Linked DNA regions of Homo sapiens: region 2 is linked to region 1. The links come from fine-mapping of genetic effects on gene expression. A gene starts in region 1. The other region holds a variant in brackets. All regions are shown on one strand. Distances are from middle to middle.

Evidence for each region. PIP is the estimated chance that this variant, and not a neighbour inherited with it, causes the effect.
Region 2: its variant is the best candidate, but not a certain one, in a credible set for the expression of H3C6 in blood mononuclear cells (TOPMed, PIP 0.55).

Annotation. Positions count from the first base shown.
Region 1 is chr6:26,222,042-26,227,420 of GRCh38, forward strand. H3C6 (H3 clustered histone 6) reads left to right here and starts at 3,094. Exons shown (of 1, transcript NM_003532.3): 1 at 3,094-3,575. The coding sequence starts at 3,114. The coding sequence ends at 3,524. RefSeq lists enhancers at 3,104-3,720, 3,721-4,336.
Region 2 is chr6:26,179,763-26,185,141 of GRCh38, forward strand. It overlaps H2BC6 (H2B clustered histone 6), which reads left to right and starts at 3,999. Exons shown (of 1, transcript NM_003523.3): 1 at 3,999-4,468. The coding sequence starts at 4,034. The coding sequence ends at 4,414. RefSeq lists enhancers at 3,033-3,762, 3,622-3,811, 4,262-4,321. The variant G/A (reference allele first, on the strand shown) is at 2,882.

The sequences.
Region 1 (5,379 bases):
GTTGCAGTAAGCTAAGACGGCAGCACTGCACTGCAGCCTGGGTGACAGAGCAAGACTCTGCCTCAAAAAAAAAATAAAAATAAAAAAGAATAATGCAAGCCACATATGTAATTTTGAATTTTCCAGTAAGCACATTTTAAAAATTAATAAGCAGGTAAAAGAATTTTAATAATTATTGTATTTAAAACAAAATACAAAATAATTATTTCAAAATATAGTCAATATAAAAACATTATTAATGCAATATTTCACATTCTTTTTTAAATCTTAAGTCTTCTAAATATGAGGGACATCCTATTCAATTTGATATTACATTTTTGTTGGAAATAAATGGAATTTCATTTTGATTTCATAAATTTCAGTGCTGAAAAATAAAATTCATATATCTGATTGTTTAAAACATATCTAACATTTTCCAATAACTGAAGTATCAGCCTTTGAATTAAAATAATGAAAAGTAAAATAAAAATTCAGGCCGGGCACAGTGGCTCACGGCTATAATCCCAGCACTTTGGGAGGCCGAGGTGGATGGATTACTTAAGGTCAGGAAATCGAGACCAGCCTAGCCAACATGATGAAACCCCGTTTCTACTAAAAATACCTCCACCCCACCCCCCCCAAAAAAATAAGCCGGGCATGGTGACAAGCACCTGTAACTACAGCTACTCTGGAGACTGAGGCAGGAGAATCGCTTAAACTCGGGAGGTGGAGCTAACAGTGAGCTGAGATCACCCCACTGCACTCCATCCTGAGTGACAGAGCAAGACTCCTTCTCAAAAAAAAAAGAAAGTCAGTCCTCAGCAGCAACAACCACATTTCAAATGCTCAGTAGCCACAACTGGTTTCTGACTGTTTTATCACATAACACAGATCCTATGGGAAATTGTGTTCAGGTATGGAAATAGTGATGGAAATTACTGATTAATACAAGTGAGCTGCTAAGTTCTTATGTAATCATGTAAATTTTGCACTGACTTCTAAAATAAAGCTTTACACATATTTAGAGATGAGGATTATGAAAGGAACTGAAGGTAGGTTCCAATGGCAAAACACCGGATTGACAGATTTAAGAACACTGGGGAGGAAATAGAACTATGGGGCATAAAGATGGAATTTCCTTAATGGTTCTCACTGACTGTGACCTAAAGTTTATCTTTTGATTTTGGAAACATTTTTTAGATGTAGATATTAACATTCTAATAATAGAAATGAAAAAACTAAAATGAAAATGAGAAAACAGAAGATAATATCAATAAACAGGTCTTGGGCCTCAGAAGATGAGATGTAGGGAGTGTGGAGAGGAAAAGCACAGGGGGTGCATAGCTCTCATTAACAAACGGCCCAGCCCACAAATACGTAATCATATTATACAAAAGGATTTCAGTTCTTCCCTTGCTTCCTATGAAACAATTTTGCCAACATACCTAACCGTTTTACCGTGATTTAAAGTGTACAGAATTTTCTTTTTCTGAAAAGGAGAGAAGCAAGGGACTCATATATATTTCAGATGTGAGATTGAAACGCACGACAATGTGTAATTTCAGTCAAGACTTGCCCACGAGTCCTAAGATAATTCAAATTTGCAAAATAGACACTAACTTGAAAGGTGCAATTGTATCAATCCTGTGGTTAGCAGAATTTTGATGAATGCCCTAAAATAGGGCAGGTTTAACAGAATTCAGGGAATGAGCAGGAATGCACAAAGCATCCTTTGTCTCCTCTCCACTCCAGCTTGCAGACATCCGCGGGCATTTGCGGGCAGTGATAAATTTGGTTTAGCCGTTTCCCCTCCCTGGAGGACGGGGGCTCCAGCATATTCATGATGTCAATCGCCTTGGACTACATGCCAGCGTCATTGCGAACCTGCTACACTTTACAAAATAGCTTTCCAATGAGAAAGAAAACCTACTGGGAAAGAAAAACAAAAAGAAACTAGACCTTGCAACGGGCACGCACGCGCACTATCCCTCTCTGAAATATTTATAGTACGCTTACACAAACGCGAACTTGTAAATCAAAACTCTGCCTGAACCAAAGTAGCCAATAGATTAAAAGTATGTAAATTAGGAATTCCCAAACTGCTCTTTTTATTGGCTAGGAAAAGAACACCTTACAGGGAATCCGATAGGTTAATTCACAATAGTGTTAGGCTGTAATGTCATTCTTTAAGAATCTTTTCCAGTAAACATTTGTTACTTTTTCAAAGTAATTGGGAGCTGTTGAGTGTGGAAGCGAAAACCAAGTTAAGAAGTCCTGTTATTTGGGTGAGTCCAGTTCCTATAAAAGTTCTGTTGGATGTGTCTTAAATTGTTCGGTGCACCTCAGCTCTCTCCCGCAGGGATCCGGAGAAACTGCGCCATTGTTGTCTTACAGAGAAACAACCTTCTAACACTCTCTTCGCCGCCATCTTTTTCAAGATTTTAAATTGAAAATACTTTTTTTGACGGCTCTTGCCATTATGTCTGGACGTTTTAATTTCAACAAAACGAAATAATAGTGTTAAGTTCTTTGAGTCAAACCCGATATTACAGAGGTAGGGATTCCAGGATATTAGAATTTTACTATAACACAAATGAAACACAAAGTTCCTTATGCTTAACAGTGTATCTTAGAAAACCTTGTTTGAGTGAATTAGCCTTGTACTCTATAATGAAACGAGGAATCATTGAGAGATACTTAGGCAACGGATTTTAAATGAGTGAATAAGGAAGGGAAAAACTTCAGGAAAATGCAGAAAAAAGCAGCGGAGATTTTGGAAAAAAAATTCTAAAGCACTTTCTAACGCAAACACATTCGATTTTTTATAGCTAAACAGGATAACAGATCAGTCTATTAAGTTAAATGATCAATGTCTTTGCAGGTCATGGTCTACGTGAAACATCAAAGAAACCTGTAACGGAAAACGACTTGTTTGAAAGAGCCAGTTCTCTATCCAAATTTACCAATCAGAATCTTGCACTGAAAAAATAAACCAATCGTGAATCTCTACGGCCACTTCCGGAATTTAGCAACCGATCACTAACAGGGATCGTCCACAATCCAATCAGAGTGATTCTGTTCCTATATAGAGGGGCAAACCAATCTTCCTAACTCATTTACTTTGCAGATGAACTATGGCGCGTACTAAGCAGACGGCTCGTAAATCCACAGGCGGTAAAGCACCGCGCAAACAGCTGGCCACTAAGGCAGCTCGCAAGAGCGCTCCGGCCACGGGCGGCGTGAAGAAGCCCCATCGCTACCGCCCTGGCACCGTGGCTCTGCGCGAGATCCGTCGCTACCAGAAGTCTACCGAGCTTCTAATCCGGAAGCTGCCGTTTCAGCGCCTGGTGCGAGAAATAGCTCAGGACTTCAAGACCGACCTGCGCTTCCAGAGTTCCGCGGTGATGGCGCTGCAGGAGGCCTGCGAGGCCTACTTGGTGGGGCTTTTCGAGGACACCAACCTGTGCGCTATTCATGCCAAACGCGTGACCATCATGCCTAAAGACATCCAGCTTGCCCGCCGCATTCGTGGGGAGAGGGCGTGAATTGTTTTGAGTACAAACCTTAAATCCAAAGGCTCTTCTCAGAGCCAACCACTTTGTCCGTGAAAAGGGCTGTAATCCTTTGAGACGCATTAGACCACTAAACTGCACTGATCCAAATAGACATTTGAAATAGTGGCATTCAGTTCCCTCGATGCTTCATTTAAATTTCCAAATTTAAGCGCTCCCTCAGGTTTTCGCCTAGGGCTGGGCCTCCCTACGCTGTTCTCCATTGGTTTAGCTGGCTTTGTTTTGCTGTTCAGGCCCTCTGCTGCTTTCTTGTACATTGTTCTCGTTTTCTAAACTCCTGGCCACTTAATTGTACCCTGCTTAACCCATCCTCTTGTTTTCTGGCTCAACGCTCTTTCATGTGGTGGCCTGCATTTTAGGTCTTAACTGCATAGGCTTTCAACGCCTTGGTTTTGCCTTTCCTTGATGTTTATTTGACCTTGCCCGAGGGGCCAGCGCTTTTGATCTGCATCAGGCTGCCTTACTCCACTAGTGTTTTGAGACCCAGCTACTTGCCGGCGACGGTCGGTGCCTTGGGTGCGGTCAACGTTACTCTCTGTGCGCCTGATACTGGTCTAAGGCTAAGGTTATTAGCTGGAACACCTAGACCCGTGGCACTAACACACAGCTCTTGCAGACTTGACAGCCTTGCATAGGTTCTAAACTGCAGGAGTCAAAGCAACGAAGGTGCAGATGGGTGTGTCTCAAACCTGAGTGCGAAAGGAAAATGCAGAAATCATGAGCCTTTTCAACTTTCCAGTTGATATCTTTTGTTTGCTTTTTTCTTTTCTTATTTATTTATTTATTTATTTATTTATTTATTTATTTATTTATTTTGAGACGGAGTTTCGCCCTTGTTGCCCAGGCTGGAGTGCATTGGCGCGATCTCGGCTCACCGCAACCTCCGCCTCCCGGGTTCAAGCGATTCTCCTGCCTCAGCCTTCCGAGTAGCTGGGATTACAGGCATGAGCCACCTCGCCCGGCCTTCCGGCTGATATCTTAAAAGAACTTTTCAACTTTAGTAAATACCCTGTCTTAATCAAATCTCATTAAAAGTACCCCATATTTATCAACAAAACATGAAAATCCTTGGACGGCTTCAAAGTTCTTACAGAAAATATTCTGCCTTTCCTTTCCATACAAAGGCACAGCTTCGAAACTGGTAGGTGAAGGGAAGGAAAATAAGGAATTCTGTTACGAAATCATACAGGCTGTTATTTGGAAATACAGAAGGGTGTATGTACTATATGGGATACTGCATGCTATTTGGAAGAATTTTGTTTATTTAAACATTTCAGCAAATTCCTCAGTTTTGATATGGGGTGCAGTATTTTTAACTCATTGAGAAATTTCTACTAACTTTTTTGAATGTGCTCTTTTCCCACTAGTTGCACTAAGGAAAGAGGTTAGTCATGTGGTAAAATTAATAGTGACAAAGCTGTAAATAGCTCTGCAGGCCAAGGTAGCCATAGTAAGAAGTCCTGGAGATTTATGGAAGAAATTTTTGTTCATGGAAGCCTGTCAGACATGAAGATGTGGGTCTTGTGAATTGGAGATTCAGTGCGTGAGGAAAACAGCCTAACTATCCATAATTAAGGTAACTACTGTCAGATATTTGTAACATAGTGAACATCCTATTATGCTAGATAGAAGCATTCTCTATTTGAATGTTGTTTCCTGTATCCTGTACTTTCTTTAAGATTCTAGCTCAACAAGTTTTAACCTGTATTTCTCTTACAGCTACTGGAATTCAGTACGTGAGGACTTGGACTTGGTGGGCACAGAATGCATCTTTTTATATCATTAAATCCACCAGAACATCTAGCATGGTCATTTGCCTAAAACAAAG
Region 2 (5,379 bases), 42 kb before region 1:
TGATAAAGACAAAATGTAGGGCCATGCTTGGTGTCTGACACTTATAATTTCAGTGACTGGGGAGGCTAAGATGGGAGGATGCCTGGGCAATATAGTGAGATCCCCTTCTCTAAAAAAAAATGTTTTTTTTTTTTCTTGAGACAGGGTCTCACTCTGTCTCCCAGGTAGGAGTGCAGAAGCACACAATCTTGGCTCACTGCAACCTCCACCTCCTGGGTTCAAGCAATTCTCCTTCCTCAACCTCCCAAGTGGCTGGGATTGCAGGCATGTGTCACCACGCTGGGCTAATCTTGCTATTTTTAGTAGAGACAGGGTATCACCATATTTGCTAGGCTGTTCTCAAACTCCTGGCCTCAAGCGATCCACCCGCCTTGGCCTCCCAAAGTGCTGCGATTATAGGCGTGAGCCAACGTGTCTGGCCCAAAAAATTTTTAAATAAAAAACATATATATAGGAGAGTTATACAAGGACTGGTTAATTACTAATGACATTCTAGTTTTTTGTTTTTTTTTTTTTTTTGAGACATAGCCTCACTCTGTGGCCCAGGCTGGAGTCCAATGGCACAATCTCAGCTCAATGCAGCTTCCATCTCCCAGGTTCAAGCGATTCTCCCTACCTCAGCCAACCAAGTAGCTGGATTATAGATGTGTGCCACCATGCCCAGCTAATTTTTGTATTTTTAATAGGAACAGGGTTTCACCATGTTGATCAGGCTGGTCTCGAACTCCTGACCTCAGATGATCCACCCGCATTGGCCTCCCAAAGTGCTGGGAATTATAGGCATGAGCCACTGCGCCCAGCCCAACATTCTAGTTCTTAAACTGCCCTTTATTTTGATGATGTATTTGTGTACTCTGTGAAAAGTGAGATATACTGTTCATAAGATTGTGTGAGTGATCGCTGTTCGCCTAGCTCAAAGTTCTTCCTGTCTCTCCCACGGAATTGGGGAGAGTTATATACAGGGCCTACTTAATTACTAATGACATTTTAGTTCTTAAACTGGGTTTTTAAGTACCAACCATTTGTTTTACAATTCTTGTTTATGTTGCATATACCCTTTTGTGCAGATATAATATTTACTATAAAAATGTTTAAAACTCTCCTGAGATCTCAATCAGAGACAGGAAACCTCAATGCCACTCTACAGTTTTTGTCATTTTTTAAATTTCCCCTATCTTTTTCTTACTTATGTGCCACATCACCATTTTTATTCATATAGATATAAAAGTGCAGAAATTTTAGTCTTTAGCAGGAATTTCAAAAATCACAAATGGCAATGTTACCTGCCTCATTAAAATCATTTAAGGGTCTCAATCCAATCTTGTCAGTTGAATATCTGATATGTGTAGTTTGGATGTAGTTAAGGGCCTTCATCTGCACTTTTCTTTCTGTTTCTTCTTGCAGTTGCAGATTGTATCACTGGACTCCTCTCCCTCTGGTTTTCTTTGTGTATGTTCATTTTGTGTCTCTCCAACGTATTAGTTCATCCTCTTTAGGTGAATTTCTTTCTTTTTATCCTACTCTTCACGTCTGTCTCTCTTTCCATTGTGTCTGTTTCTTTTTTCTCTCCCTCTGCCACTTTTCCCTTAATACGGTTTAAATTTTCTCTCATTTGTCTTTCTCCTTTTTCTCTACTGACTAGATATACCATCAGAGGTTTTTTTTTTCATTTCTAACAACCTCTTATAGTCATTAAAGAAATGCTTCATTTTCCATTCTTTTAACATAAGAAGAACAAGAAGCATTTTTCTCTTTTTGCAACACAGCCCACCAAGGTAGGTGAAGATGTTTTCTAACAGACTAGATCCAAGCCAGACTGCCTAAATCATCATTCTGGTTACACCTAGTATAAGCGATGGGGTTTGGGGCAGGATGCCGCAACTTGGGTACTCTAATTTCCCTTTCTGTTAAATGAGAACAAAAGTAATATCACATGTTTTTTTGTTTGTTTGTTTTGTTTTGTTTTTTGAGATGGAGTCTTGCTGTTGCTCTGTCACGTAGGCTGGAGTGCAATGGTGCGGTCTCGGCTCACTGCAACCTCGGCCTCCCGGGATCTCCTTCAGCCTCCCAAGTAGCTGAGACTACAGGCATGCGCCACCACGCCCGGCTAATTTTTGTATTTTTAGCAGCGACAGGGTTCCACTATATTGGCCAGGCTGGTCTCAAACTCCTGATCTCGGGATCCGCATGCCTCGGCCTCCCAAAGTGTTGGGATTACAGGCGTGAGACACCACGCCAGACCTTTTTTTTTTTTTCCTCTCTCCCTCTTTGAGACAGAGTCTCGCTCTGTTGCCCAGGCTGTAGTGCAGTGCCAATCTCGGCACACTGCAAGCTCCGCCTCCCAGGTTCACGCCATTCTCCTGCCTCAGTCTTCCGAGTAGCTGGGACTACAGGCGCTCACCACCACGCCCAGCTAATTTTTTGTATTTTTCGTAGAGACAGGGTTTCACCGTGTTAGCCAGGATGGTCTCGATCTCCTGACCTTGTGATCCGCCCGCCTCAGCCTCCCAAACTGCTGGGATTACAGGCGTGAGCCACCGCGCCCGGCCCTTTTTTTTTTTTTTTTTAAGAAGGAGTTTTGCTCTGGTTGCCCAGGCTGGAGTACAGCGGTGCAGTCTCAGCTCACTGCAACCCCCACCTCCCGTGTTCAAGCGATTCTCCTGCCTCAGCCTCCCAAGTAGTTGGGATGACAGGCGTGTGCCACCCTACTCAGCTAAGTTTTTGTATTTAGTAGAGACGGGGTTTCACCATGTTGGTCAGGCTGGTCTCGAACTCCTGCCCTCAGGTGATCCACCCGCCTCGGCCTCCCAAAGTGCTGGGATTACAGGCTTGCGCCACTGCGCCCGGCCCAAGATTTTTTGATTAAATAAATACAAATAAA[G/A]CACATTAGCTATTATTCTGAACACTGCTACATTAGCTACATTGAAAATTAAAAAAGATGTTAAACAGATTTTAAGGTTTTCTCGTCATCACTGAAGTGAGAAAAACAAATTATTTTGTGAAACAAAGATAAGACACAATAAATTCAGAGTACACTTTTGTTAGATGCTAACCCACAGAGCGGAATACTTTTTGCGCAGCACCTTCATTCCTGGAGACTTAGGGCCCGGGAAATGGGAATGGTGGCAGGAGAGGAGAAGGGCTAGGGGGCTGGGGAGCGTGGGGTGAAGGAGTGGGGGCTTAAAAAGGACAGTCAAATTTAGGAAGAACAGTTTCTTAAACTGAAGTTAGCTAAGCAGCGGGCTTCAGCCAAAGATAATAATACTAACTTGAAAGTAAAGCTGTTTGTTAAATAGGCTTTCATTTTAATTTTTTAAAAAATATTTTCACTAGTTAGACGGAATATTTATTTCTGATCCTCGTTGTAGGGCTAAACTAGGTGTGACTTGCTTTTCCATTAAGGACTGTAGCCATTTTGGCTAAGAAAGTCTTTCCTGTCTTAGCTCTCTTCAAGAGATGCTATTTACTTTTTTGTTGTTGTTTTCTCCGGAGCTTTATTGCCTACCCTTTATTTTCACGATGTGTTTGTGCATTCTGTAAAAAGTGGGAAACACTGTTCTCCGGATTGTGTGGGTGATCGCCGGTCGCCTAGCTTGCCGTTCTTCAGGTATCTCCTGCTGCTCCAGAATCTACATCTGAATGTCAAGGCATAGCTTTTCCAGGAGCTTTTAAACCGACCTTTCAATTCGAAGACGTAACTGCGCCAGGAGCTTTGTCTCCCTGGCATATAAAAGCATAGAAGAGAGCAACTTCTGGTTTTTAAAATAAGTAAACTAATCTGAATTGTTTGCAATGGTAGGAACTTGTTATATAAAATGTTAATTAGGTGGCCCGTGCTCGAAAACTGCTCTCAGGATATGACCAATGGGAGAGTAGACCTAAGCTCCTTCATTTGCATGCAGACTTCACGACAAAATAACGAATCAGAGTTGGAGAAACTAAATCTTCATTTACATAACATTGTCTACAAATTCCGAGGATCAGGAGATGTAGATTTCATTTTCTTTCCTAACTGCAGAACAGCAAAGATAGCATGCCTGAGCCAGCGAAATCCGCTCCCGCCCCGAAGAAGGGCTCCAAGAAGGCCGTGACCAAGGCGCAGAAGAAGGACGGCAAGAAGCGCAAGCGCAGCCGCAAGGAGAGCTACTCCGTATACGTGTACAAGGTGCTGAAACAGGTCCACCCCGACACCGGCATCTCCTCTAAAGCCATGGGGATCATGAATTCCTTTGTCAACGACATCTTCGAGCGCATCGCCGGCGAGGCTTCCCGCCTGGCGCATTACAACAAGCGCTCGACCATCACCTCCAGGGAGATCCAGACGGCCGTGCGCCTGCTGCTTCCCGGGGAGCTGGCCAAGCACGCTGTGTCAGAGGGCACCAAGGCCGTTACCAAGTACACCAGCTCCAAGTAAACTTGTCCCTGCAACTGCCTTAGTAAACCCAAAGGCTCTTTTCAGAGCCACTCACCTTTTCACAATTGGAGCTATATACTGACATGTGAAGATACTAGAAACTCCTGCAGCTGAAATAGGCATGTTTTTAAAACTTAAAATGGCACTCACTGTCTGGGCTGGTGGCTTTATGAAACTCTGGTTTCCGTGTTTTATGAGGTATCACTCGATAGTACCTAAGAGGCAATAGTAATTTCATAGTTTTGCTCTACGAAGAGAAACTTCGTTTCTCAAGAGTCCTTAAAAATACGGGTTTTACCAAAGAAGCCCATATTATGGGGGGCTGGAGCGGGGGTGGGGAAGGAGGAGAGGAGACTGCTGCTTTCAAGTAGTTCTTAATGTTGAATTTGCTTTTTTCCTTTCCTCAATTACTTCAAAAAGGTCTTAATTTGGATTTTTATTTTAGGTTCTAAAGGAAAAAATAAAACCCTCTTCCCTCTACCGCCTCACCTGTCTGGTTTCACCAATTAGACTTGAACAATTCTCAGTGTGCAACCACACTCGCGCTCGCACACAAACACATACACACATTGTTCATTGATCGACAATCCCCATCTCATCTTTATCATGTTCTTAGAGAAGTTGGGTCTCCATTGTTAAGGATTCTCCTAATCACAAAAACTGACTATATACCTATCCCCAATCCAATCATTAATAAGGGGCATGTGATCTTTAGGATAGGTGTAGTCAAATTAATCAGATCCCTGAGGCTAGAAGGAACTCTGCCTTCTCTGGAGAACAAGTCAGGGAACAAAGAAAGTTGTATTAGGAAGAAAGGAGGGAAAATGACTTTTGGGGAGGAGGCATCTGCACTGCCTGATACAAGCAGCTTCCAGGCGAAGGTGGATGGAAGGAATATCCAGTAGGTTGAAAATGGATAGTCATTCCTTCATATTCAAGTGCCAAGCAGTGAATTTTGTACTGAG